2 separate regions of the Homo sapiens genome follow, and region 2 is linked to region 1. Evidence: fine-mapped expression QTL. Tissue or cell type: macrophages. Region 1 holds a variant in brackets; the other region holds the start of a gene. All regions are shown on one strand. Distances are between the middles of the regions.

What was found. PIP is the estimated chance that this variant, and not a neighbour inherited with it, causes the effect.
Region 2: AGPAT4 starts here. The variant in region 1 is fine-mapped to the expression of AGPAT4 in macrophages (Nedelec 2016, PIP 0.95).

Annotation. Positions count from the first base shown.
Region 1 is chr6:161,188,157-161,196,343 of GRCh38, forward strand. All of the region lies in intron 2 of AGPAT4 (1-acylglycerol-3-phosphate O-acyltransferase 4), which reads right to left. Among named protein-coding and RNA genes, the nearest start is that of AGPAT4-IT1, 30 kb to the left of the region's middle. The variant CTT/C (reference allele first, on the strand shown) is at 3,986.
Region 2 is chr6:161,270,658-161,278,844 of GRCh38, forward strand. It overlaps AGPAT4 (1-acylglycerol-3-phosphate O-acyltransferase 4), which reads right to left and starts at 3,404. Exons shown (of 9, transcript NM_020133.3): 1 at 3,281-3,404.

The sequences.
Region 1 (8,187 bases):
AAAATAATTTTTACAGGCAGAAATGTGGAAGGGACTCTATCCCGGCACTGTTTTTTAAAAAACATTGTCTTTACATGGGACATTGATTGCTTCCATATCTCAGCCTAGGACGCCTTAGGATATTTAATTTTGTCTCTCTTCTAGTAGAAAACCAACTTTTTCAGTAGAGCAGCTTTTAATTATTAAGGATTATGTATAAATTGCACATTTTTCTATCAGACTTGTGATAAATTAGGTCACCAGATAATTCTGAGATCCTCTCCTTACATCACTTGTTTCAAGTGAAACTTCCCAGTGTTTCCAACAACGTAATATTCTGTCCCTATTAAGATGACCAGGTAAAATACAAGGTACCCCATTACATTTGAATTTCAGATAAATTACACTTTATTTTTTAGCATAAGTATGTCCCACGCAATACTAAACGACATTATGAGGCATGCAATATCTGGGACACATACTAAAAAATCATGTGTATATGAAATTTAAATTTAGCTGGGTGTGCTGAATTTTTATTTGTTAAATCTGGCGATTCCAGTCCTTGTTAACCCAGCAGTCACCATGGTAACAAGCACGGCCGTGCCTCTGGGAGGGCAGCTTGGGGAGGAACTGAACAGGGCACCTCTGGGTTGAGCAGCCAGCGGCCGTCGAATGGGGCTTCCGTAAACATCATTCCCTAGAATCCCGAGAGCCACCTGGTGAGATCGGCATCGCTATCTCATTTCACCAATGGCAAATGGAAGAGAGATGGCTTTCCCAAGGTCATGCCCATTCTGGGGGCAGAATTCCTGTACCAGCTGCTGCTGACCCTGATGCTGAGGGCTCAGTCCTCTTGCTTTGCTGGCCTCGTGCACGTGCAGAACACGTGTTTCTTAGAATCTTAGTAATTTTGAAGTAATAAATCTGTGCCTATTTTATATCCCCATCTTTAAAACATCCCTGATAAATCATTTTGCCAGGGTTTCATCTACCAGGTGAGCTTTATCTAATCAAGCTATGAGGCTGGTGAGTGGGCATGCAACAGTGTTGCTAAACCCGGATTGTCTGGCAGCCCTGGGAAGACCAAGGCCAGGAATTAGGAGGCTTTCCCATCTGCGGACTGTCCTGCCTCCTCCCCATCTGGCTCTTGTGGTGAAGTCTAATGAGTGTGCCAAGACCAGCAGGGTGCCCTGAGGTCACAGCTCAGGTGATGGGTGGGGTCCAGGGAAGGGGCACGAACAGGATGGAGGAGCAGGGAAGAGGAGGAAGGCATTGAGGAATCGGGGTGAAGAGAGAACCCACATGTATTGTACACACACTGTAGCCACACAGTGAGTGAGGCTCGTCACATGCGGAATTCACTTACTTACAACCTTAGTTGCCCGTCAGGACTATCCCTCCTCTGCACAGATGAAGAAGCTGAGGCTCTGAAAGTCTTAGCAACTTGCCCCAGGCCACTGAGACGGTACGGACTTCTGTCTGTGCTGTACACTTGCACACGGCAGATCCAGGCCAGCTGCACATCCGTGGGCTCCTCCATCAGTCTCTGGCCCCCTCTTCCACCTCACTGTCTCCACCTGCCCCTTCCTCACCCACCGCCCTCCTAACCCCTCTCTCCTCCACCCAAAAAAGGGCTGAATGCCAACCTGAAATGTGGTTCTCTGAGTATTTGTTTTCATTTTCAAGATAGCACTGAGTTTTGTGCAGGCCCAGGCTCTGTTCTGTCTTATCAGTTCTGAAATGCTCCGTTGGTTCACATTTTAACATGCTGAAATCAGGGTGTGTCTCACTATTGATGGCATCCCTTAGTTTAATTGGAGCATTTCTTTTCCTTTCTTAGAGATGCATAATAAATATGCACCTTACGGTCAATGACTAGAGTCTATGAAATACAGGAATTAAAACGAAACAGGGTGACCTTAGGAAGCTGATGTCATTTAGATGAGCTGTATCTGAAGTGCAGCCATGTATGTGGGAAGTGCCAGGGTCAGGGGAAGGGAGGGATGAATAAGGAACACGGGATTTTTATGGCAGTGACGCTCTGCTGCAGGACATTGTCTTCATGGGCACATGACATTATGCATTAGTCAAAATAATGTATCATTATCAACATTGGTTCATCAATTGTAACAAATGTACCAGACTAATGGAAAAGCGAGTGAGCAAGTGAGAGAGAGAGAGACTGAATGTAAGAGAGTATATGGAAACTATCTGTACTTCCTTCACAAATTTTCTGTAAACTTAAAAGTGCTCTTAAAAAATAGCCCATTAATTTTTTAAAAGGCAGAGTGATTTGATCCTTTTATATTTCTCCCATTAAAAAAGGTTAAAGAAAATACATAAAATACTATTTTATAGTTCTGATTCTCCCTCTGCCTCCCAACTGGTTTTAGCTATCTGTGGCCAATCAGCAGAGAGCTCATGGGAAGCTTTACCCAGAAGAAACCAAGGGAAAAAAAAAAAAAAAAAGATCCTTAGACCTTAAGATATTGATCAAAGGAGTAGAAAGATTCTCATTCCACCTTAACTTCTGAATATTCCAAATCTCACTCTCTAATCATGCCAATGGGAAAGAAAGACAAGCAATATGCCAATATAGGTCTGAAGGAAAAAGGAACAATTTATATATGATCTAAAATACCCATCTCTAGAATAAAGACAAGCAGAAATAAACTAATCATTAAAAAGTCAATTTTGTGGTTCTTGGGTAGTAATTAGATGTATTTATCCAATAGACTGTAATCTAAGGTTATAACAATAGTCAGACTTTGTTCTTTGTTCCCAATAAATATATCCAGATGTCCAGAGGAAAAAAGTTTTTTCCAGTCTGGATTTCCCATGAAGACAGACTGGTTAGACCCATGCTAATCTTGGTTCAAATCTCCTCAGCACCCCTGCTTTGGTTTTTTAACTCCTTAAGAACACAATATGGAGAAGGTTAATCATTTGATTCCAAATATAATAACATTCATTAAGTGCTTACTGTGGGCCACACCTAGTGACAAATGGTTTACAAACATTATCTATGTAACAACGCAGTTAGCATACACTTGACAGACGAGAACACCAAAATGTAGAGGAGTTAACATAAATACCCAGGATCACAAAGCCAGCAGATATCACACCCAGACTCAGACCAGGCCTGTGTCACTTCACATCCCACACTCTAACCCACTGTGCTGTGCTGCAAATTAGGAATAAGAAGTATGGAAGAGTTAAAATGTGGTACTTAGGAACTGAATGAAACCAGGAAAATAATACCATTGCCATATAAATTCAGTTGGAGAGACGTCATTCTGAAAGCTGGCTCAGACCAAGGGGGCCAATCCCACCTGCCCCACCATGGCCCTAAAATTAGAATATCAAGGGGAACCAAGTATCTTAGATACAAGGAGGGACACTGTCCACTTCCAGCAGCTCTGAAAGTGGGTGAAACTAGAGCCAGACAGGACTAAAGATGTATACATATTCTTTCTACCTGTCATAGTCCTGAAGATGTTGATTAATTAGATTAAAAGTACAAGGTTAAATTGCAGCTGTTTGACTTTTGTGGACTGACATTTAAAATATCAGAAACAAAGATTGTGTCAGATACAGATTACATGAGTTGGGAGACTGTCTCTACACCAATCCATTCCATAAGGATGTAGGTGCAGAAGAGAGTTACACATAGCATGGACAAAACTAAACTGCAAGGAGGCCATTGTTGCCTCAACAAGCCAAGGCTGGTTTGATTTCCTGACTACAGTCTTGAACAAGTGATTTAACTGTGTTTCTTTCAATGGTGCTTTCAATTCTCAATTCACCTTCCTCTCCCCTGGTTAGGACCAGAGCTGGGCAGTGTGTAGGGAGGTGTAACTGTTCTTGGATTTACAAGGATTGTCCTATTTTGTGCATTCCTTTTTTTTTTTTTTTGTCTCATGTTTCCATGGTGCCTTTCTTCTCTCTTCCTTCTCGCCTTCTTTTGCAATAAACATTTTTTCCCTCTACTAGTTTAGAAGTTATA[CTT/C]TTTTTTTTTTTTTTTTTTTTTTTGGAGACAGAGACTTGCTCTGTTGCCCAGGCTGGAGTGCAGTGGCACAATCTCAGCTCACTGCAACCTCTGCCTCCCAGGTTTAAGCGATTCTCCTGCCTCAGCCTCCTGAATAGCTGGGATTACAGGTGCCTGCCACCACACGCAGCTAATTTTTGTATTTTTAGTAGAAACGGGGTTCCCCCATGTTGGCCAGTCTGGTCTCAAACTCCTGACCTCAGGTGATCTGCCCACTTCAGGCTCCCAAAGTGCTGGGATTACAGGGGTGAGCCACTGCACCTGGCTGGAAGTCATATATTTTTTAAATATCTCAATTTATCCTTCCTAGTGCCTTTTATGTTATTCTGGCCTAATATTCTAATATTGTCCTTCTAATTTAACTCCACAAGACTTTATCATTGTTTATACAGTGTTCATTTACATCTATCCACGTATCACCTTTTTTTCTCTTCTTTCATTCTTGTATCTCAGGTCATCTGAGATCTTTTTCCTTTTCCTGAAAATTTATCTTTAGCATTTTCTTTAGTGAGGATATGATGGTGAAAAACACAATTATTGTTTATCTGAAAATGTGTTTATTTTGCCATTATTCTTGGAAGTTATTTTTGCTAAGTGTAGAGTTCTAGACTAGAACTTCTTTTTCTTTCAGCACACATTAAAGATACGATTGCATCATCTTCTGGCTTCTGCTGCAGCTGGGAAGAAGTTAGACTTTAGGGTGTCGCTCTTTGGAAGGTGGTCTGTCACTCTTTGGAAGGTGTCTTTTCTCTTCTGGTGACATTTAATGTCTTGTATATTTTGGTGTTCCACAATTTCACTATGATGCATCTACGTGTGACTGGATTTTTCTTTTATTTTCCGTGGGTTTCACTGGGCTTCTTGAATCTTTGGATTAGTATTATTTGTCAGTTCTAGAAAATTCTGAGCCATTGTCTCTTCAAATACTGTCTCTTTCTTCCCTCCATCCCCATCTTCTGGAAGGACATACTTAATCTCTTTCCCATGTTTGTTAAAAAGTATTTTTTCATGTCTGTATCTCTGCTGCATTCTGGATATTTCCTTCTGATGTGTCTTCCAGTTCACTAACAGTCTTTCCAGCTGTGTTTAAGCTGACATGAAACCCATACGGTGAGCTTTTCAATCCAGTAGTTTCTTATTTCTACAGGTTCTTTTGATTCATTTTAAAACCTCCTAGGTTAATTTTTACAGTTTATTGTTTCTGACATGTGCCACATGCTCAGTCCAAGACTATCTGAAGCTAACATCATGGTTGGAGATTTCCAGAGCATCCGGGGGATCTGAATACACGCTGCAAATTTGCAAGCAGGCCGCTCTGTGGTCACCACTTTTCAGAGACTTTTATTATCCTCAGCTCAACTCAGACCAATACAAACTTCCGAGTTGGCCACTAGACCTGTGGGGTGATCAACCTTCCTTTTGGTTCATCTTTACATTGAGGTTACAGCCTTTCACAGTTCCAGTTTTATGGAGGAAGAATCCCTGTTAGACTCCAAGGCAGACTCTGGGCTTTGACGTCTGTGTTGACACTACTGGAATGCTGACAATCAGATTTTCTTGGCTTCGTATATATCCTCAGCAACGCTGTGGTGCCCTGACTATCTGCACTATCTTCCCTTAGATTTTGCCTGGTATGTCCTTACTATCTTGACAGCTCTTCGATACTTTTAAGATTTAAAAATATATTTTATCCAATATTTTTAGAAGAAGAGTTGGGCAAAATAACCTAAGCTGCCATATCATTGAAAATGGAAGTCAGTTCTGCTGAAGGTACTTTACTTTTCTAAGCCATAATTTTCCTGTATGTAAAAGAAGGTTACACGCAATCACTGTCTACAGCTATGCTGTCCACTCCATTAGCCACCAGCCACATGAGGCTGCTGAACATGTGAAATGTGACTAGTCCAAACTGAGATAAGCTGTAGGCATAAAATACACACTGGGTTTTGAAGATTTCCAACAAAAAAAGAAAATGCCAAATATCTCATTAATTTTTACAATGGATACATTTTGAACTGGTAATATTTTGAATACATTATGTTAATCAGATATATTAAAATTAATTTCACCTATCTCTTAATTTGGCTACCAGAAAATTTAAAATTACATGTGCAGTTCTCATTGTAATTTGGACGCACGACACTAATCTAAAAGATAAAGCTTCTTGGCAATGTTATAATGATGCTTTATGAGCTGCTCCTGTCTCCTCTGTCAGCCAAACCTGGTCCCCATTCCTTTCCAGAGTAGTGTGTGTGTGTGTTTGTGTGTGTGTGTGTGTGTGTGTTAGAATATGCGCATGTATGTGTGTATGTGTGTGTGTGCATGTAAGTATATGTGTGTGTCTGTGTGTCTATGTGTGTATGTGTATGTGTGCATGTGTGTATGTGTATGTGTGTATATATGTGTATGTATGTATGTGTGTCTATGTATGTGTACATGTGTGTATGTGTATGTGTGTATGTGTATGTATGTATGTGTATGTGTGTATAGATGCGTAGGTATGTATGTATGTATTGTGTGTGCGTATGTATGTGTATGTGCATATGTGTGTGTGTATTTGCATGTCCTTGCATGTGTCCTCGACAAGGCTGTTTCTTGACAGAGGAAACTTATTTTGTTCATCTTTAAGTTATCAGACTTGGTGCCTGTCACATTGCAGGAGCTCCTTAAACACTTCAGAAATTAATGAATAAAATGGTTTCCATGGATGATCTGATACACTTAGCTTTTAAAGAGGAACAACTTCCTTACTTCTAGTTTCCCTTAGAAAGGATCCTTCCTTAGATAAATTCCTGCCTTCCTGCACCTTACTTGCCCCGGGAGAAGCTTTGGCCACCACCTTCCAAGTCCTTGCTTAATTTCTCAAATTGTTTAGAAATATAACTGTGAAGAATACTATTTATTGAGGCCTTTCTGGGGATCTCAACATTAAGTACAAAATTAAATATATTCTTTTCTCCAAAAGAATAAAATACAACTTAATTTAACCACACCAGAAACATAATTCAGAATTTGAAGCAAATTTCTCATTTAACCGAAAACCAAGATGAAGGATAATTCAAGACAAGAAACTGGCACCTATTTTCAGGGTAAGAGTCCAGCTTTCCCTTTCCAGTGGCAGTCTTCCCAAAATAAAAGAAAAAAAGTAATTATTCAGAGAAGACAAGCACTGCAGGACAACCATTGGGCGGGTTATAAACACCTTTCATTATATGGCATGACCTGCAAGGAATGCTTCCATCATTCCAAGATTTAAAGCCACCTAGAAATACAGCAACTTCATGTTCATCAGAATCAGAAGTTTGTACAGTAGCCAGAGATCTTTAAAAGCTCAAAGCGCTTCCTAGCGCACACTTCATGTAACAGTTCACTCAGCAAGCCCATGATGCCTGTAGTATAAAAGCAAATGTTGCAGAACTTCATCATGTGATCAAAGCTGCAGAAGGAGAAAGAGACCTTGCATCAGGCTGTGTCATGCCTCAGTCACCTTTGACTACTCCGAAGAGGAAAGAACTCTAAGAAGGCCACCCTCTGTCTCTCAGATCCAAAACTACACATGCAGAGAACCTGGAGACATTTAGGGAGGCATGCCACACCCTCGGGGCTCGTCACACAGGCATGGCTCTACACTGCTCTCTGGGGCAGGTGTCAGGGCCAGCAGGCAGGCTGATTGTCTAGCGTTGGCATTAGGGCAAGTCTTGAATGTGAATGTTCTCAAGGTCCGCTCCGATCCTATCTTTTCCCAAAGCTTCCTGACATTGATCAGGCTCTCCCCACCGTGTGCAGAGGCAGCTCACACCCACAAGGCTCTGTGATTCACGTGCTGGATATTCTAGAGCCCCTGAAGGTGCCAGGACTTTAGGATTTGCATAACTTAATGAGGCTTAATGACCCACCATCCCAAGACAGAAATATAACCCTGACCTCTTTCTAGAATGGTGTGGTTCGCCATCTTAAGAGCACTGTCTTTCTAGGAGAAAAGAAATGGGACCTAGTAAGTTAAGGCATCAGACACTGAGTGGTGACACTTTACCAAAGAACAGCAATGTTAAGAAAAAGCCAGGAACTGGAGAGGCTAGGGGCTGGAGGGAAATCTGCAGAAAAGGTGTCCTGGAAACTATGAAAGTGTTTGAAAAGGAAAAAAAAGAGGCAGTCAGGGC
Region 2 (8,187 bases), 83 kb after region 1:
TGTGATCCCAGCTACTCGGGAGGCTGAGGCAGGAGAATCGCTTGAATCCAGGAGGGGGAGGTTGTGGTGAGCCGAGATCACGCCATTGCACTCCAGCCTGGGCGACAGAGCAAGACTTCATCTCAAAAAAAAAATAAATGTGAATGCGGCTTTGTCCCATAACCATCAGACCTCCTTTCCAGAATAAAGGAGACTGCACAAAACGTGTGACATTTACCAAACCCTCATTTGAGCATCCAATAATTTAAAACAATGGCAATGGCAGGAATTATGAAGATGACATTCCGGGTAAGTTCCTGGTTGCGTCTTCCCCAGTTTCATACCTGTTTAAAGTCTAGTGTAAGTCTGGCCTTTCGTTGTTAAGCTGAAGCTAAAAAAGTATTGGATTAGGAAGGATTCTGCCTTCTGTTCAGTCTTCTAACAGTCCTTCTTTTTCTGATTAAGAAAAACTTCTGTCCCCAATTTACATCTACTTATGCTTTCAACCAGCACAGAGTATACCTGCTCTACTTCTATACTAAAGACTGACTTCTCCCTTCTTGGAGTTAAGAACCCTGAACCATGATCCATTTCTTACCATCCACCTTTGCTATCTAAGACACCCTCTCCTTCTTCCCTTGAACCGTCTGCCTCCTCTCCTATAAAGCTTCAGCAGCAGGATGAAGACTCTCTAGTATTCTTCTCATACTAATTGCGTCTCCTTGACTGGCTGTTGCCTCCCCCTTCCTTCCAGCTGGGTGCTCTGCTCTTCTTTTCGCCACCCGTTTGGTGGATTTTAAGCTTGAGAGCACAGACTACAACTGCTGCCTTCTTCACCAACTTCACAGCAGAGCCTTGCAGACAGTAAAATCCCAATAAAATGACGGCTGACTCACCCTCTGGGTGTCACCTCTGTCAGCCTCTTCCATGGGACCCTACGTTTACTTTATACTCACAGCTCCACTTACCTTCCCTAGGCCAAAGCTGCTAACTGCTTTAACCTCTACTCAGCATCTGAATATCAGACAGTGTTTTGTTTGTTTATTGGGTTTGGGTTTTTTGTTGTTTTTGTTTTGGCTGTGCTTCTGAGGAAGTCTTGCTCTTTTTCCTTTCAGTTCTATTCCATTAGGCTTTTTGCTGTGAAATTTTGAATCTGGAAACTCAAGAGAACCGACATCGCAGACTTTGATTTACATGCTGTCAATCTGCTTTGGAAGGTCATGTGGCAAATCTGCCCTTGAGGACCATTTTCAGACAGGAAAAACAGTAATTTCAGCCTGGCTGCTTTTCAGAATTCTTTGCAAACATCAGATGCTCACAATCCAACCGTTTCTCTGTGTACTAACATGTGCTTTTCAAAATGAGTGTCATATTCTTTTTAGTAATACTTTTCTGTGTGTTATGCCCTTTAAATAGTTCTCGTCTTTAACTCCATGTGGCTCTGGTTTGTTTTGTGCCATGCTATTTTGCCCCATTTTCAGGTAACTTTTCTACCTGAATTACTTAGGACCTCTGGATTTATAGCAGATTTGATAAGACATAGATGATAGCATATTTAGATAAGGATCACAGCAAACAGAACCTCACTGAAACCACCCATTCTTCCTGCTTCCACATGGCAGGGTTGCTCAAGGTTTATAAGTAATGATTTTGGCTTTAGCAGCCGGAAGGTATGAGGGCTAAGTGACCTTCACACATGTTTATCTTAAATTATAGATAATTTTAAGAGTCATGAATGGGATTACTACTTATCTATTTTATAAAAGCTAATTATTTGGGATGCCCATCAGAAGAATGGTATCCCTTATCAAACGCTTCCTTAGACGTACTGAATAAAAGCATCAGTTTAGCCGGTACCTGTTAAGAGGCTATGTCTTTCTAAGAGATGTGTTATTTGATTCTAATTATAATTAACTTTGCTTATTACTAAGTAGATAATAATTTTCTCATTTCATATTTTTTCTGAATAACAGTTTTTCTCCCCATAGAGAATATTCAGAAGATGGAATCCTTTTAACGTAGAACTCAAGATGTGCCCTGTTCTCCCTGCCCGCCTCCCATTTCCCTAAACACACACACACACACACACACACACAAACACACACATTCTCCCTTCTCTCAAGATACTTTTTTTCCAACTGAGAGTCGTTGACTAATCACAGATGAGTTAATCCTTCCACAGTTTTGAAAAAGTCTAGCAACCCTCACCTTGAAGAGAGTGAATAGCGTGGCTAATCCATCTAAGAACAATGCACGAAAACGAAAAACGGAGAATCCTGCCCGGCAGTTAATTTGTTACTCATACTTGTTGAACTTAAGATTTGGAGCTAAATAAGTGCAGATGAGAGCAAAGACCCATCTTTTAAATATTTAAGCTTTTAGGCAAACCTGGGCAGGCAATATCACATTTATCAGTGCGAATTCTCCAATGCTCTCTAAAACTTTATTTCAATGATCTCACCTCCTGTAAGGAATTAATTCCCCCTTAGCTTGACCACAGGATCAATATCTTATCTTAAGAAGTGTTTAGGTTTTCTAAAAAAAGACCAGACACTGAAGACTTACATAAACATCAAAGCATTCTTTTTTTAATTCCTCGATATGGAGAAATTCATAGGCCGAAAATTAGGTAAATAGAGAGGTAATTACCAATGCCTGTTTCCTTGACAACTCCCCTCCCCCACCCCTCCTGTGATAGGGAAAAACCAAAATGAAAGTGAGGAGGGGTAGCCACAAGCCATGCTGGATTTTAGCAAACCAAAGCAAGAAGCAGAGCAGAAAGCTGCAAACTAGACACAAAATACAAATAAATCAATGTATATCGGGGCTGCATATTGTGTAGTATTTTTGTGGTTGCCATAGAAACGTCAGCGACGGAAGAACATGTTGCATGACACAAAAGAGAGCAATATGTAATAGGAACATTCCCCCCACCACCACCCCCCGCCCAGCTTCGTCTATAGCAGAGAAAATGCTTTAGCCCCGGGAGGGGGCTGGGTGGGTGGGTAAATGAAGCCAGGAACAGCAGCTTGAAATCACAGCCCAGAAAGGGACGCTCACCCGGCCCAGCACAAAGCGAGGGTCCTTTTGTACCAGCAGAGCCTCTCTTCGCCTCCCTCCAGGCGCCCCCTGCACCTTTCCCCCGCCCGCCTTGCACTCCCCCCCCGCCCCCGGAGCCTACCCCTTCCAGAGGTCCTAAGGAAATCCAGCCCAGGAGAGAAAAATATGCTGGGAAGAGGAATGCAAACATCAGCCACACCCAGCGGGGAAGGTGCCTGCGAACGGCACCAGGACCACATACCTCCTTCCTGGCAGCCTTTGGCACATGGACTTAGAAACCAGAAGCTGAGATGGAGCCGGCTGGGTTCAGAAATTGCCACTAGTTTATAAGAGCTGTAAGTCAGCCAACACTGGAAAGAAAAAGCGAGACTCCACCCATGGGGTGGACCCTTCAGGAAGAAAAAAAAAAAAAAAGTGGTCCTCAGCTGACGTCTCTCCCCACCCATGTCACTTCCTTTTAAAGCTACAAGTTAGCAGTTGCCGAGAGGGAAGAGCGAGCTGGTGTAATATGAGTCACTCCCTTCCCCTTCCAATTAGTGTAAGGCAGTGCTTCAGTTGGCTTCACGTTTGAAATCGCTTTTGAAATCTGGCTCGGGAAGCTGCCAGGATAAAAAAAAAATGAAAGCCCCCTGGAAGTGGCCTTGCTTTCTCTCCCCTTTCTCCCAAATCCTGTTGCATCCCTGCGCCCTAACGGCTCCTCTAACCTCAACCCAGACTCCGGCTCCGTCTGTGTTGCAACCTGGAAATTGTCCTCAGTTGGCTCATTTTTAATTCAGCAAGCGTAGGATCAATATGCCCACCCTCAAAACTCTCCCCTCACCTCTCCTCGGTCCGCTGTGCTGGAAGGAGATTGCGTTGCACTCAGAAGAGTCCAAATCATCTTAAACAAAATAAGCCTCAGCACTCAAGAGATTGAGATGTTATGAAGTGGGATGAAAGAAGCTTGGAGGTCGATTGATGTATTTTCTGTTTTCAAACCTTAGCACCATGGTTGATTACCACTGCACAGGCGTGCACACACGTACTGTCGCATGCTCACATGCACGTGGCATTTACACAGGTGTATCAGAGAGGGTCTGGGCAGACCTTTATAGTAAAAGTGTCTTCACAATTTTTAAAAAGGGTGGGCTGTTGAAAGTCCAGAAATGCCAGGATCTAGAAAATTATTTCAATTTCAAAATACTGAGGTGTATTCCTTTCAAATGTCCACTATTACAGCCATTGTCAAAATAATATTTAACTATTTACTTGACTCCTGGGTTAACCTTGTTCTTTAGATGTTTATAATCTATAAAGGAAAAATACATGTGCTCACAAATAGCCCAAGCACATTGCAGAATTACTAACAGCTATGCAAGTGTCAAAACCAGTGTGTCATGAAGACAGAATAGAAAGTGCTTTTTTGATTGCGATGGGGGAAGGCATTGATCATTCAGGAAACAGGGTTTGGAGTGGGTCCTATGGGAGGTGGCATTTTTCTTGTCTGTGATGAGAGACGGGGAGAGTGAAGCAGAATGTGGTGGAAGAGAAAGGATATGTGAGGCAAACAAAAAAAGGATCAGAACAGAAACCCATTTGTAGCAATAACTTGTTTTAATATCCATGTGAAAATAAATTTGACCACAGAGTAATGCTTATAAAAGATTTTTATAAAAAGTTCCTTGTAGTCATCATCTCTCGTAACTTTTCGAACTATGTTTTACGACCCATGTGCTTCTAGATTTGGTGGAAACTTGAGTTTTTCAAAGTGTTTTTCAAGTAGAGTTACACTGTTTTTCACGGTTGAATTCTGAATGGTAATTTATTTCAAAACCTACAAATTGCATAAATTCCTGATAATGTTATAAGTACAGTCAGTGATTTCAGTGGAAATGATAGGAAATTTAAAATTTGGACAATTGTAACTTTTATCCTGATCTCAGTACTTTAACATCCTCATTCCATTATTACATTACAATTATTATTATACTTATTATTGCTAACACTTTGCCTGTCTAGACAATGTTGCTCAGTCCCAGTTATCTCAGATATAGCTGAGAAATATGGGAGAAAAAGTTACTATTTCTAAAAATTTAACATAGAAATTCAAAATTCATGGATTAAATCCTATGCTTTTTTTTTTGAGACAGAGTCTTGCTCTGTTGCCCAGGCTGGAGTGCAATGATACGATCTCAGCTCACTGCAACCTCCACCTCCTGTGTTCAAGCAATTCTCGTGCTGCAGCCTCCCAAATAGCTGGGATTACAGACATACACTACCACACCCAGCTGATTTTTTGTGTTTTTGGTTGAGACGAAGTTTCACCATGTTGCCCAGGCTGGTCTCTAACTCCTGACCTCAGGTGATCCACCTCCACCTCCCAAAGTGCTGTGATTACAGGCAGGGAGTCACCACGCCCAGCCCTATGCACATTATTGAGTGCCATTTAGAGTCTATCCTTATGTGCCCTTATTTAGCTATTTCTATCTATACAAGGAATTGTGAATATTTCCAGGTCACAACGTAACAACTCAGTTCAATGTATGTTTATTGAGCATCCATGTTAGTTGCTGAAGATACAAAAACACAGATAAGACATGGAAATGGCCCCAAAGTGCTCAAAGTCTTAGAAGGGAAAGCGAAATGTAAACAGTTAAGACACAATGGAGGCAATGATTGACATTTGTACAAGATTCAGAGGTGGTTCGAGAATGGGAAAAGGAGAGGGAGGATACATCTACATAGTTTCTTAGCTAACAGTGGACTCTAAAAGGGGTGGAGGTGGACAGTATACTCATCCGTGAGATGGTAAGAAATAAATACTGGCAGTTGGAGAGAGGAGAAAAAAATTGAAAAGGAGACACAAATCATAAATTGGTAACCTAAAAAAGATATATAAGTGGTCCGTAAACAAAGAGGCAACCTTACATAAAAATACAAGTCACAAAGTAAGGATGTTATTTCTTTGCCTAGTCACTTGTCCAACACTCAAAAAGCTAGAACGTGCAGTGCAGAGAATGCAATGCCATGGGTTCTCTCTTCTGCTGGTGATGGCAAATTGATACAATCTCTGGAATTCAATTAAAGAAGATTTTTCATGAGCCTTTAAAATGTTCATACCCCTTAATCCAATAATTCGACTCAGAATAATTTATACCAAGGACATAAGCAGAGATAAATTCAAAGATTTGGGAACATGTATATTCATCAGAGCCATTTATAATAGTAAAGTCTGGAAACCATCTGAGTGTTTGAAGTAGCAGGTTAGCTATGGAAATGATGTAATCTTCATATGATGAAACACTCTACAAAAAATTAAAATTCTGTGTTTGAAAGACCTAGGGAAATTCATGGTATCTTAAGTGTAAAGGGAACTAAGCTTTATATAAATTATGGTCCCGTTTTCGTGATTCTATAAATATATATTACAGTGTGTGTAGTGGGTTGAATAAGTGTCCCCCAGTGTCCCCCACAAATTCATGTTCACCCAGAACCTCACAATATGAATTTGTTTAGAAACAGAGTCTTTGCAGATGTTAATCAGCTGAGACGAAGTCATTCTGGATTAGGATGGGCTATAGACCCAATACCTGGTGTCCTTATAAAAAGAGGAGAGGATGCAGAAAGACACACACATAGAATAAGGCCATGTGATGGCGGAGGTAGAGATGGGAATGATGTGTCTATGAATCAAAGATTGCTGGCAAACACCAGAAACCAGGAGAGACGCATGGAACAGACTCTCTGAGAGCCTCCAGAAGGACCCAACCCTGCTGATGCCTTAATTTTAGATTCCTGGCCTCGTGAACTGTAAGAGAATAAATTTCTGTTGTTTTAAGTCACACAGTTTGTGCTAATTTGTGATGGCAGCTCTGGGAAACTTAATGCAGTGTGATGAAGATCATGAAACTGTTAATAATCATTACTTCTGGAGAGTGAGATTGAGGATGATTTTTATTTGCTTCTTTATATGTGATTGCACTTTGGAGAACTTTCTACAATGGATGAACACGTGTGACTTTTACAGTAACAAGATTAGGACTAAAAACCAAATAACCTAGGTTTCTGAAACTGTTTCTGCAATTTAGAACAGACATAAACAATAATCAGTGATGCTTACGACACGGTGAGTCCTGAGGAGTAACATATTTTCAAAGCCCAGTGAGAGGTAGAATTCTGCATATCTCAGAAACTTCTTTAAACCTAAGTTTTGGTACTTAAAATGATAACTATCACTTATCTGAAATGTGAACTTACACACTATGTATTAACTGTTGTGCTAGATAGTGGAGTCACTGATGGCATTGTTACAAATTGCCCATTCTGTTAGCACAATGTTATTACACATTAACAGTATTTTTGCTTTATTTCCACTTGCCTCGTGTTGTGAACATTGATACAACATCCACACAAACCTATACACTGAGTTTAAAAATGTTCTCAAGTTATACAATATGAAGATATAGATTTGCAACTATGATGACCTCATTATGTGCTACATTGGAAATTGTGGCTGCTTAGAGGAGACAAAGGAAAATTGTAAATGCTAAAGTTAATTTGATATTTGGGGTCTATAATCTTATATTTAATAGTTATATATGTCAATAAAAACCCAATAAAGTTCTTAAAATGTTGTATGTTTTTATGACCAACAAACTCTTACGGCTCTCGTTATTATTACAATCATTTCAAGTACGATCAAAGAGGTGTAACATTAATATCATTGGGGAAAGTGCAGAGGAACTAAGAAAAATTTCCTCCTTTGCCAACAATGGTTATGACCTAAGTTATTCCCATAAGATGGATGTATTTACAGAACCTTCGTTTCTATTGATTAGCTCTCAATGAATCTTAACACTGAATTTTATGCTAAAAATTGTTCTTGATATTTACTTGGCTTTTTTCTCTTATTGCCATCTTCAGGTCAATTCAGCCCGCCTGAGATGGCCCCAGAAAGCCACCCACTACCCTGTCCTGAATTCAGGCAATGAGCAACTTGAAATCATACGATACAGAAGCAAATCTACCACAACAGAAGGAACTGAATTCAAATCAATTAACGCATAACTGATTGGCAACAAATTGAAAAAGATACCAGTTTCACAACCTGATTTTAAAAGACAAGGTAATACGATGCCAATACTGAAACCTAGCACTTGTATTCTTCAT